Linked DNA regions of Homo sapiens. The protein of the gene in region 1 interacts with the protein of each later gene in a pairwise test. Each region holds a gene or a part of one and is shown on either strand. Other genes may lie near its edges.

Region 1 (7,298 bases):
ACAGCTTCTCACTATTTTTCTTCATGTTGCTTCACATATCTGTTTTTTGTTGCCATTGTCTTTCATCATCACCCTTCCAGGTGTCCCTTCCTGAAGTTCAGTCAGCTTCAGCCCCAGTCTTGCAGTATTTCTATTCCCACCTTGGCCTATTATGAACAATCTTTGGGCTACTGTCTTTTGACAGAGGATACTTTTAATGAAGCAGCTTAGATTTCTATAGAGGGTAGCGGAGGAAAAGATAAGGATGAGGCTGCTTCTGGAATAATTGTCATGGGAATGAAAGGGCTGTTGAAAGATTAGAGGCCAGTGTGCCTGGGTACAAGGACTGGGGTCATAATTATACTTTGTCTTTTACTAGTGCCTTTTGTCCAAGTCACTGAAAGGGCTTAATAAAATTCTGGTCTGAATAATATTATTCTTTGCTCTTTGGAATTTACTGGAGGTGGCAGTGAGGCTCTGAAAAAAATATGAATGTTTTATAGTGGCATAAAAGGAAGTGAGTTAGATACCCTGATTCCTTGTTAAGGAAAGATGAGTCTGGTGAAAGCTGGTGCTGTTAGGTGAAACAGTGTTTGCCATTATATGAAATGGGATGAGATGGTTTAATGGAAATGTTGCCTTTTTCTTCCCCACCTTTGTCTTTGTGCTTAGAGACTCTGACTGTTAGTCCTAAGGGAAACAAAACAACTTAAGCTTCTTTCCTAGGGATAGGGTGCTCCTGATTTCTAGTTTCAGCTCTATAATCCTTAGTATCTGTGCCTTTAATAAGTTTGAAGTTAGTTGGGCTGGGCGTGGTGGCTCATGCCTGTAATCCCAGCACTTTGGGAGGCCGAGGCGGGCGGATCACTCGGGAGATCGAGACCATCCTGGCTAACACAGTGAAACCCCATCTCTACTAAAAATACAGAAAGGTGGGCATGGTGGCAGGCGCCTGTAGTCCCAGCTACTTGGGAGGCTGAGGCAGGAGAATGGTGTGAACCCGGGAGGCAGAGCTTGCAGTGAGCCTAGATAGCGCCACTGCATTCCAGCCTGGGCGACAGAATGAGACTCTGTCTCAAAAAAAAAAAAAGAAAGAATAATAATAATAGGTTTGAAGTTAGTCATCTGAGTGAACAGAAAGCTCAATCTCTTCCCCCAAGAGGTTGATTTCTGTTGATTTGTGTGTAAAATGATACTCAGAATCTGACCCACCTCTTTATGTTGTGAAAACAAGTGTTGTACAGAGTTTGAGGATACATATGTCACTTATTTACATTGGAAGATTCTTGCCTAGGGGGCAATGCTGAAGTTAGCTTTATGTATTGAGTTGAGACTCTTGGCTTGCAGTACCTGTCATTTGATATGTGCCTCCTGTTCCAGGTTTTATTTTAGTTCCCACTTTCGCATCTGAAAAATCACTGCCAGTTACTCAGTGAGTGAAGTAAAGAGATGGCACTTGACCTCCCCAAAAATATATCATTATATGGATTTTAAACATAGGGAAGAAAACATAAGGAAGAAAAAATTTCACAAGCTGAGAAGACCTGTTAAGCATGCATACACAAATCATTTTTATAAAAATGATAAAACCTGTACATTGTTAAATCTCCTTGTCCCTATTGTCTTCTTTCCCAGGTGGTTTCCTAATTGTTTTGGTTTCTTCCTCTCCCAAACCCAGGCTGGCTACAGCAAACATCATTCAAGATGTCCAGCAAAGGGAGCAGCACAGATGGCAGAACAGACTTAGCTAATGGTAAGGGGCCAAAATGAAGGTGAAGCTATTTTTACTATCAACTGAGGTTGTCCTCCTCCCTGCAAGATAGAGTGGAGGCCTGGATTTTAGTGGAGAGAGGGAAACTTTCCTGTGTTGTTCTGAGTTTAGGAAACTACACAGGAAACACCTTGGACTATATTATGCTTTTGCTTCTTCTGATTTTATCTGATCATTTTCAAAATATCAATAACAGAGCTGTACTTCTAAGAGGTCAAGTGGTTTGGAGTTCTATAAAGCTATAAGGATGGGCAGAACCTAGGAAATGCTGTTAGTAAAGGAGAAAAATAAAATCTAATGGCTAGTAGGAACAAGGGAATTTTAGGGAAGATGAGCTTCCCAGTTATATTGAGAGGTCCCTTTCCACAGTAAGTAGTAGTTTGATAGAGAGATTACATGGCTGGGCATGGTGGCTCATGCCTATAATCTCAGCACTTTGGGAGGCTGAGACAGGCAGATCGCTTGAGCCCAGGAGCTTGAGACCAGCCTGGGCAACATAGCGAGACCCCGTCTTTTTAAAAAAAAAAAAAAAAAAGGTGATTACATAAGGGATGAAGTTACAACCCAACTAGGAGTGGGACATCTTTCCCCTCCTTATTTCCTTTCCTTACTTCCCCTCCCTTCTTTCCATTTATTTCCTTCCTTCCTTCCTTTCCCTCCTCCTTCTTTTCAGGACCAGTGCTGCCAAGTGTCAAATCACTGGCTTTAGGGCAGATTTGAAGGCAGAATATAAAAATTCTAATAGAGTATAACTACCACCTGGGTTATTTAACCAGCTCTTCACCTCTGAGCCAACTTTTAAATTAGAGAAGCCGCCTTTAAATGGATATAGTTGGGCAGCACAGAGTCCAGCATTCCTTAGCACCTTGAAGGTCAGGATAACAGGCTAAATTCTAGTTGATGTGATTGGAGGAAGGATAAGTGAGATTTTCAACATGCTTTTTTATTGCTCCATATGTTCTTATCACTGCCATTCATTCATCTTTTGTAAAGGAAAGTGGTTCATATTTTTCACTGGGTTTAGTTGAAAGGCACAGGGTTCTAGAGGAGTTAAAGTATACTATTGATTTGGAGCTTGACCATTAGCTAGGTCAAGGATTGGCAAACTATAAATTGCAGGCCAAATCCAGCCTGCCACTTGTTTTTGTAAAGTTTTATTGGAATACAGTCATGCCTGTTCGTTTATGTAGTGTCTATGAGTTGCTTTTGTTCTACATACTGGAGTTGAGTAGTTGTGGTGGAGCTCCGTATGGTCTGCAAAGCCTAAGGTTTTTACTATCTGGCCCTTTACAGAAAAAATTTGCAAACCCCTACTCTAGATCTTGGTGATTTACTGTTGGGGACTTCTTGATGAGCTTGTGATACCCTCTGGCCCTTATGTTAATGTGGTAAGGCCTCCAAAATTGTCTATATTTGTTACTCATAATTTTAACAATAAACACTAGATGTTTTGGTGTTTTATTTTTTCTTTTCTACAGACCTGTTAGGTTGGTGTTTCAGTCCCTGCTCACCACTCCCAAGCTCAAGCCCAGCTGCATTTCAAAAAACTGTAACTGCTAAACTTTCGTAGCATATATAACAGGCTCAGCAAATGTGGTCCTTGGGTTCAAATTTCTGTACTTCATAACTTTTTCTTCCAGCCCCTAGCCCAGTTGTTTTATACTGTGCTCTTAGTTGAGGCTTTTTTTTTTTTTTTTGAGACAGAGTTTTGCTCTTGTTACCAAGCTGGAGTACGGTGGCACAATCTCGGCTCACTGCAGCCTCCACCTCCCAGGTTCAAGCGATTCTTCTGCCTCAGCCTCCCAAGTAGCTGGGATTACAGGCACATGCCACCACGCCCGGCTAATTTTTTGTATTTCTAGTAGAAATGGGGGTTTCACCATGTTAGCCGGGCTGGTCTTGAACTCCTGACCTTAGGTGATCCACCCGCCTTGGCCTCCCAAAGCGCTGGGATTACAGGTGTTAGCCACCGCGCCCAGCCTGCAAGAACTGTTTATGTCTTCTGGGCTTCTGTTACTGCTTGAATCAAAGCACTTGTATTGTTGATCTTTTTTCAGTATTGGGTTTTGCTTAAGAGTACATTGCTTCAGAGCTCTTCACAAATTACTGCTCTAATCCACATGACTAGGCAATAAGGTGCTCCACCTTTGAATCCTTAAACATCAGTGTGGTATTGGAGTTGAATAGCTCATACTGGATGGTCTGCCTTTCCTGACAGCTTTTACTTCTGGCGGATAAAATTTATAGCCATCTGAGGAAAGGAGGCCCATGAGCAGCATTTAAAATCTTTATTCTCCCCTTTTTTCTTCACACCTTGACTTAGGTTGGAAGTTGTGGTTGTATTGGCTTTAGAACATTCCTCAAGTTCTCATTGGAATTGACTTGACTGTTGTGAGTTAAGAGAATGCAGTATGTAGTTATAGGAGATAAGATCGATAAAAGTGACCTAGTTATTTAACTATCAGCATAGCAGACCTAGAATATACTGAACTTTCGTCTTAGGCACCACTATAGTAGCCCAGCTTTTTATCAATTTTATATATGCTTCCTAATAAAACTGTCTCAATAGAGAGACTAAAAATGTGTGACTAAGAATTATATTAAAAAATTCAAACTAATGGAAGTAAGTCAAAATATATTTACTAGCAAAAGGTGAGCAAGAACCCACTCAAATGATCACAATTCCCACTTACCCCTTCAGCTTGCTTTCTTAGTGAATTTTAGAAACTTAGGTGGGGAAGAAGCTTAGGATTTAGGTGACAGAAGGTGTAGTGGTACTTTCTTTTTTTTGAGATGGAGTCTCGCTTTGTCGCCCAGGCTAGAGTGCAGTGGTGCGACTTTGGCTCACTGCAAGCTCTGCCTCCTGGGTTCATGCCATTCTACTGCCTCATCCTCCTGAGTAGCTGGGACTACAGGCGCCCGGCTAATTTTTTGTATTTTTAGTAGAGACGGGGTTTCACCATGTTAGCCAGGATGGTCTCGATCTCCTAACCTCGTGATCCACGTGCCTCGGCCTCCCAAAGTGCTGGGATTACAGGCGTGAGCCACCGTGCCTGGCCTGATACTTTCTTAAAGTAGGAAATGGTGCAACACCACATCCATAAGTCAAGAGTGATTTTTATCAGCTGGTTTCCGTCTTTCGCTAAGAAGATGGCTATGCTAGCTCTTGCTGGAGTTGGCTCTTCTTTTTATATTCTGTTTAATTATTTGCTATAACTTAATAAATGCCCATCCAATACAACAGAGCCAATGGTAGATGTATCAGGCACACTTTTATACAATATGCCAATGTTTTGCCTCTTGAGAACTTAATATAATCTTAGATTGTCCTGAGATTCTTTGCTTTTGTTGAAGTATTTTATGTGTGTGGATTTGATCTTAATCTTTTCAATTTCTTGTCCTTTACAAGATTTCCCCTCAGAGGGTACTCTCTGTAATTATTTGTAATGAAAACACTTGGACCAAAGTTCATTTTTTGGTCTTTTGATGTGAAGATTTCTTAGACTAAGGTGGTCACTATCCTGTTTTCTTATTTTTCCCTCTCCTCTACTCCTTCCTCACTAACATGCAGGAAGCCTGTCTAGCAGTCCAGAGGAGATGTCTGGAGCTGAAGAGGGGAGGGAGACATCCTCAGGCATTGAAGTGGAGGCCTCAGACCTGAGTTTGAGCTTGACTGGGGATGATGGTGGCCCCAACCGCACCAGCACAGAAAGTCGAGGCACAGACACAGAGAGCTCAGGTGAAGATAAGGACTCTGACAGCATGGAGGACACTGGTCATTACTCCATTAATGATGAAAATCGAGTCCATGACCGCTCAGAGGAAGAGGAAGAGGAGGAAGAAGAGGAGGAAGAAGAGCAGCCTCGGCGCCGTGTACAGCGCAAGCGGGCTAACCGTGACCAGGACTCATCAGATGATGAGCGGGCCCTAGAGGACTGGGTGTCCTCAGAAACATCAGCTCTACCCCGACCTCGCTGGCAAGCCCTCCCTGCCCTTCGGGAGCGGGAGCTGGGTTCAAGTGCCCGCTTTGTCTATGAGGCCTGTGGGGCAAGAGTCTTTGTGCAGCGTTTCCGCCTGCAGCATGGGCTTGAGGGCCATACTGGTTGTGTCAATACCCTGCACTTTAACCAGCGCGGCACCTGGCTGGCCAGTGGCAGCGATGACCTGAAGGTGGTGGTGTGGGATTGGGTACGGCGGCAGCCAGTACTGGACTTTGAGAGTGGCCACAAAAGTAATGTGTTCCAGGTGAGGCAAGGGAGCATAATAGCAACTGAGAGAATCAGGCATGAGTTAGAGAAATCTGAACTGCAGCATGGATTGGGAGCTGATAGTGAGTTATTGTAGGAATTACATATCGGGACATGGCCCTACTTTGGCTCCCCTAATGACCTAAATACACTGAAAGACTCTTGGCAACCCTAGATTCCTTGAGCATGTGGACTGTTGGAAGCCTCATAGGTAGGGTGCATGCAGCTTATTAAATGTGTGCTGGTAGGAGGCAGTGTAGTATAAGCACAGGCTCTTGAACCAAACTGCCTGAGTTCAAATCCTAGCCCTTCTGCTTACTAGCTCAGTGATCTTGGCCAAGTTATTTTACCTTTGTCTTCAGTTTATCTGTAAAATGGGACTAATAACACATAGGGTTATGAGGATTAAGTAACAATAGAAGCTAAGCAGTTAGAACTGTGACTGGTACTTAATAAACATTTGATAAATGTTAGCTTATACTGTTGTTATTCTGGAAAGATTTTACTCCTTGGCCCCATCTACTGTACTGGTACCAGCCATTTATCCTAAGGGTGTTCTCTTTTCTTCCCTGACATTCCCCCTATTTTCCTTTTTCTTTGTAGCAAATTTATATTTACTTTCTTAATCAAAGTAGATTTTTCCTCCTCTATTCCTTTTCTCCTCTGCTAGATACAGTCCTAGTTCATCTGAGCTCTTATCATGTGCCAGTTCAATCTTCCAGAGCCAACTGAAATGCTCTCTTACATCAAAGGAAGTTTTTTCTCTCCCTTTCCTTTAACTCCTGGAAGAAATTGGGCTTAGCCAGCTGTACAAGAGTAGGAAAGCTAAGTTTCCAGCTGTCATGTAAGAAAAGGGGGTAAGTTGAGGTCATCATCGTATTTTTTATTCTCAAGTTTACCTCTCTCATTTCTTTTGTGTGTCCTTTTTTTCATTTTTAACACCCCAGGCCAAGTTTCTTCCTAACAGTGGTGATTCTACTCTGGCCATGTGTGCCCGTGACGGGCAGGTTCGAGTAGCAGAACTGTCTGCCACACAGTGTTGCAAGAATACAAAACGTGTGGCCCAGCACAAGGGAGCGTCCCACAAGGTAAGTAAGACCTTGCTCCAAAATTTGTGCAATCCAAATCCTCTGTGGTTCTCAGCCAAGGTTCTCCCTTATCTCTGCCCATTGTGTCACATTTGTTGTGGTCATGTGCCTCACCTCTTTCAGTCCTAAGATTTGTGGTTAAGAAAGGAGCAAAAGCAGCCACCCTAAACTCCTAGGAAGGCAAGTATCTGAAAAGTCCCTAGATCATGCATT
Region 2 (4,294 bases), on another chromosome or scaffold:
TTTTTTTTTTGAGACAGTCTCACTCTATCATCCAGACTAGAGTGCAGTGGCACAATTATGGCTCACTGCAGCCTTGACCTCCTGGGCTTAGGTGATTCTTCCACCTCAGCCTCCTGAGTAGCTGGGACTACAGGCACATGCCACCATGCCCAGCTAATTTTTGTATGTTTTGTAGAGACGAGGTTTCACCATATTGCCCAGGCTGGTCTCAAACTCCTGGGCTCAAGCTATCTGCGTGCCTTGACCTCCCAAAGTGCTAGGATTACAGGTGTGAGCCACTATGCCTAGCCTAACTCAGACTTTAAAAATATAAAAGCAATTCATTTTTATTCCCAAGAACAGTAAGGTGGTGGTTTAATTTTAGTCTTTAATTCTGTTTTTAATTTATTCTATTTAGAAATGTCCCAGAAACTTAGTATAACTTTACTTTCTGAAAATGAAGAAACCTGTCCTTGGGCATTAGTGTGTTGGATTTAAGCAACAAAGTTAAAAAAACCTACCCTGTGTTATGGCAATTTTCACTTGATGGTGGTTCTATAACACAGGTATCAGTGAACCTTTATAAAAGATGAACAACTTTTCAGCTTGCTTAATTTCAGTTAATTAACATGTATACTTATCTATGTTAATGTTTTATTGCTTAAAATGTTTAATTTTTATATTTGGTAAACACATAGTTTTTTCTCTCCCCCTCTTCCTTCCATCTTTCATTACTACAATTTACCATGCAGAGCTCACAATGTCTCTCTGCACCAAGCTCCATGACTCAGGATTTGCCTGGAGTTCCTGGGAAAGACCAGTTGTTTTCACAGCCTCCAGTGTTAAGGACAGCTTCACAAGAGGGTTGCCAAGAACTTACACAAGAACAAAGAGATCAACTGAGGGCAGATATCAGTATTATCAAAGGCAGATACCGGAGCCAAAGTGGAGTATGGCTTTTTCCCCCTCATTATAATTGTTAAAACTTCTTAAAAATTGTTTCACCCTTTTGATATATATTTCTTTGACTTATAAACGAGCTATATTTATAAACAAGGGACCAGAACACATTAACTCAGTCATGGTTATGTGCTTCCTTGCTTTCAATGTTTCATTATCTTATAAGGAAGAGAACGTATGGTCTCTTGAAAAAACTGACAATAAGAAGTAACAACTGGACTACCACATTTTTTTTTACATCCTTAATTTAACTCTTCGTCAATTTCTTTTTTTACTTAAGGAGGACGAATCCATGAACCAACCAGGACCAATCAAAACCAGACTGGCTATTAGTCAGTCACATTTAATGACTGCACTTGGTCACACAAGACCATCCATTAGTGAAGATGACTGGAAGAATTTTGCTGAGCTGTAAGTAACAGATTCTGTTTTGGAAGTACAGCTACTATTACAAGTGACATAGTATTACACTTAAACCTTTAAAGTTCGTGTTTAAAATAAAAATATTTTGAATATTTAAAAGCTAATTCAAAAAATATGTGTCGTAGCTATGCATTAAAAAACCCCAAAATGTCAGAAGTACAGAAGTCAAAATTGAGTTTTCATTAACCAGTTCATTTGATTATATTTGAATTATTCATAATGGACTCATTTAATTTTAGTAACTTTGGGCTGGGTGCTGTGGCTCATGCCTGTAATCCCAGCTCTTTGGGAGGCCAAGGCAGGTGGATCACCTGAGGTCAGGAGTTCGAGGCAAGCCTAACCAACACGGGGAAACCCCATCTCTACTAAAAATACAAAAATTAGCCAGGTGTGGTGGCATGTGCCTGTAGTCCCAGCTACTTGGGAGGCTGAGACAGGAGAATTGCTTGAACCCAGGAGGTGGAGGTTGCAGTGAGCCGAGATTGCACCACTGCACTCCATCCAGCCTGGGCCACAGAGCGAGACTGTGTCTCAAAAAAAAAAAAAAAAAATTTAGTAACTTCGAAGAAATAAGAAGGAAAATTAAAAGTTGAAAGTGATTCTAATGTATAGTTTATAAAATTTTGTTATAAAAATACCTGTTTTGCCTTCAAAATAATTTATATTAATATTTTATTGACCTCAAGAACATTTAAATACATTCAGATTTATTCATTTGTGGACCACATTTGTTATACATTGGATTTAAAGGATCCTTGCAATTGAGTTTATGGCCACCTATGCATCTGAGACCCATGGACTGGGAACCATTCTAGGTCAATGATTCAGTGTGATTCAATTTAAGAGATGTTTATTCCTGGTCTTTAGAAGCTGCTACCTTTTGTTATCTAATTTTGCAGTACTTTGAAGTATGTATGTATGTGTACATACGTTAGTGCTATGTATTTATTAAAGAAGAATCAGAAAACAGAGGTAAGGAAAAATAAGGAAACAAATTTCTGTTAAGCCCACCACCTCCCAAAGCATATTTGTTTATATGCTTATATATGTTTTCCTATTATGGTAAGAACAGTCTGTACATATTGCTATATAGCAGTCCCCCTTTATCCACATACATCCTGAAAATTGTTTTACATTTTAAATGTTAACTACTTTATTGTTTTTAAATGTCATTTTATAGTGTAGCTATGCCACAATATCCAATTTTTAGACATTTAAATTGCTCCCAGGCAATGTGGTAATGAACATTCTTGCAGCTGAATATATGCACATATCTAATTGTTTCACTAGGATAGAGGTGGAATTGTATAACAGGGAGCTCACATTTTTTAAGGCTTTTGAAATGTATTGCCAAATTGCCTGCCAGATATACTGCACCATCACTAACATTGTGTGTTGCAGTATTTTTCTAAACTTGGCCCTTTTGATTTTAGAAAAATGATATCAATAATTTACATTTCTTTGATTAAAGTGTAGAAGTTATAATTTTTCATATTATTCATTGTCATTTGTATTTTATCTTTTCTAACTTGTCTCTTCATCCCCTTTGCTCCGTTTTCTATTGGAGTGCAACTTTATTTGTAAGAATTCTTTTTAATTTCTGTGACTGGAATTTTTTTTTCTAGTTTGTTATTTCCCGTTCATTTCTTAAAATATAATTGTGTTTGCCAACAATCCATTATCTTTTGTTTTGTAATGGTAGTATTTATACATATTAAATTATCTCTTTCTTTTTTCAGATATGAAAGCTTTCAAAATCCAAAGAGGAGAAAAAATCAAAGTGGAACAATGTTTCGACCTGGACAGAAAGTAACTTTAGCATAAAATATACTTCTTTTTGATTTGGTTCTGTTAAGTTTTTTGATGGCTTTTCCATATGTTGTAACAGGAAAAAAATGGTGTCTATGAATTTCTTCTTAATTTAACAAATTTGGTTAATTTATAAAATCACAGATTGGTAAATGCTATAATTATGTAATGATCAGGATTGAGATTAATACTGTAGTATAAATTGGGACATTATAACAGATTCCATATTTTATTTCCTAAAATCTAAATTCAGTCTTTAATGAAATAATATTAGCCAAATGGTGGAACTAATTTATTTCTTTTGAGGAAAAGATAATAAAGAATGTAATTAAATTTAAATTTCTTGGAATTCCCAGTTGTATATTCATCACCTTTGTAGCATTTGACAAATTTTATGCTTAGCAGCTTCTTCACTGTTTTGAAATAAAATATCCTATTACCTACTGATACAATTATCTGTTCTTTGTATATCAAAAAATGTGAAATTTACACATAATTCAAATACATTTAATTATCCGCTCAACCAGAAATGAAATCACATCCCTCTACTATACTACATCCAGCTCCAAGCCCAAGATATTTAAATGACATCCATTCCTCTCCTAGTTCCAGTTATGATTTTATCTTGATATTCTCTCATATATGAACTAAATTATAAAGTTAGCCACCATCAATACAATCTGCGTATCTAATATCTTAACTATATAGTAATGGGGTAAGGGAACAGCAAAAAGGAGAACATTAATTAAAATATACAAGTAAGCCTGGGCAACATAGTGAGACCCCATCTCTTAAAAAAAAAATTAGCCATGCATGATGGTATGCCTCTAGTCCCAGCTACTTGGGAGGCTGAGGTAGGAGGATCACTTGCTCCCAGGAGGTTCAAGGTTCTAAACCAGCAAAGCTCAGAATCCCAGGGGATAGAAACAAAGACTTAGTGGATCACTAGTATTAAACTGAGACACGTCACCCTGCATTGCACTTTGTTTCTCAGTTCTTTGATGAAATCACTGAGCTGACATACCTGCCCTCTTTTCACCATAAAGTGAGTTTCATGATCAGAAGCAATGTCTATGGGATAGCCTAACAAACAATGTAAAAACCATTTAGTAAGTTCATGAAG

Evidence for each region.
Region 2: the proteins of DCAF8 (region 1) and PEX1 interact in binary tests that used the Homo sapiens proteins (3 or more experiments, as listed by UniProt).

What each region holds. Positions count from the first base shown.
Region 1 is NC_000001.11:160,238,394-160,245,691, reverse strand, and holds part of DCAF8 (DDB1- and CUL4-associated factor 8), read left to right. Parts: intron 1-1,657; 5' UTR 1,658-1,683; coding exon 1,684-1,732; intron 1,733-5,321; coding exon 5,322-5,995; exon of another isoform or gene 5,996-6,470; intron 6,471-6,944; coding exon 6,945-7,085; intron 7,086-7,298. UniProt on the Homo sapiens protein: May function as a substrate receptor for CUL4-DDB1 E3 ubiquitin-protein ligase complex.
Region 2 is NC_000007.14:92,486,349-92,490,642, reverse strand, and holds the end of PEX1 (peroxisomal ATPase PEX1), read left to right. Parts: intron 1-731; coding exon 732-929; intron 930-1,219; coding exon 1,220-1,350; intron 1,351-3,101; coding exon 3,102-3,186; 3' UTR 3,187-3,618; downstream 3,619-4,294. UniProt on the Homo sapiens protein: Component of the PEX1-PEX6 AAA ATPase complex, a protein dislocase complex that mediates the ATP-dependent extraction of the PEX5 receptor from peroxisomal membranes, an essential step for PEX5 recycling.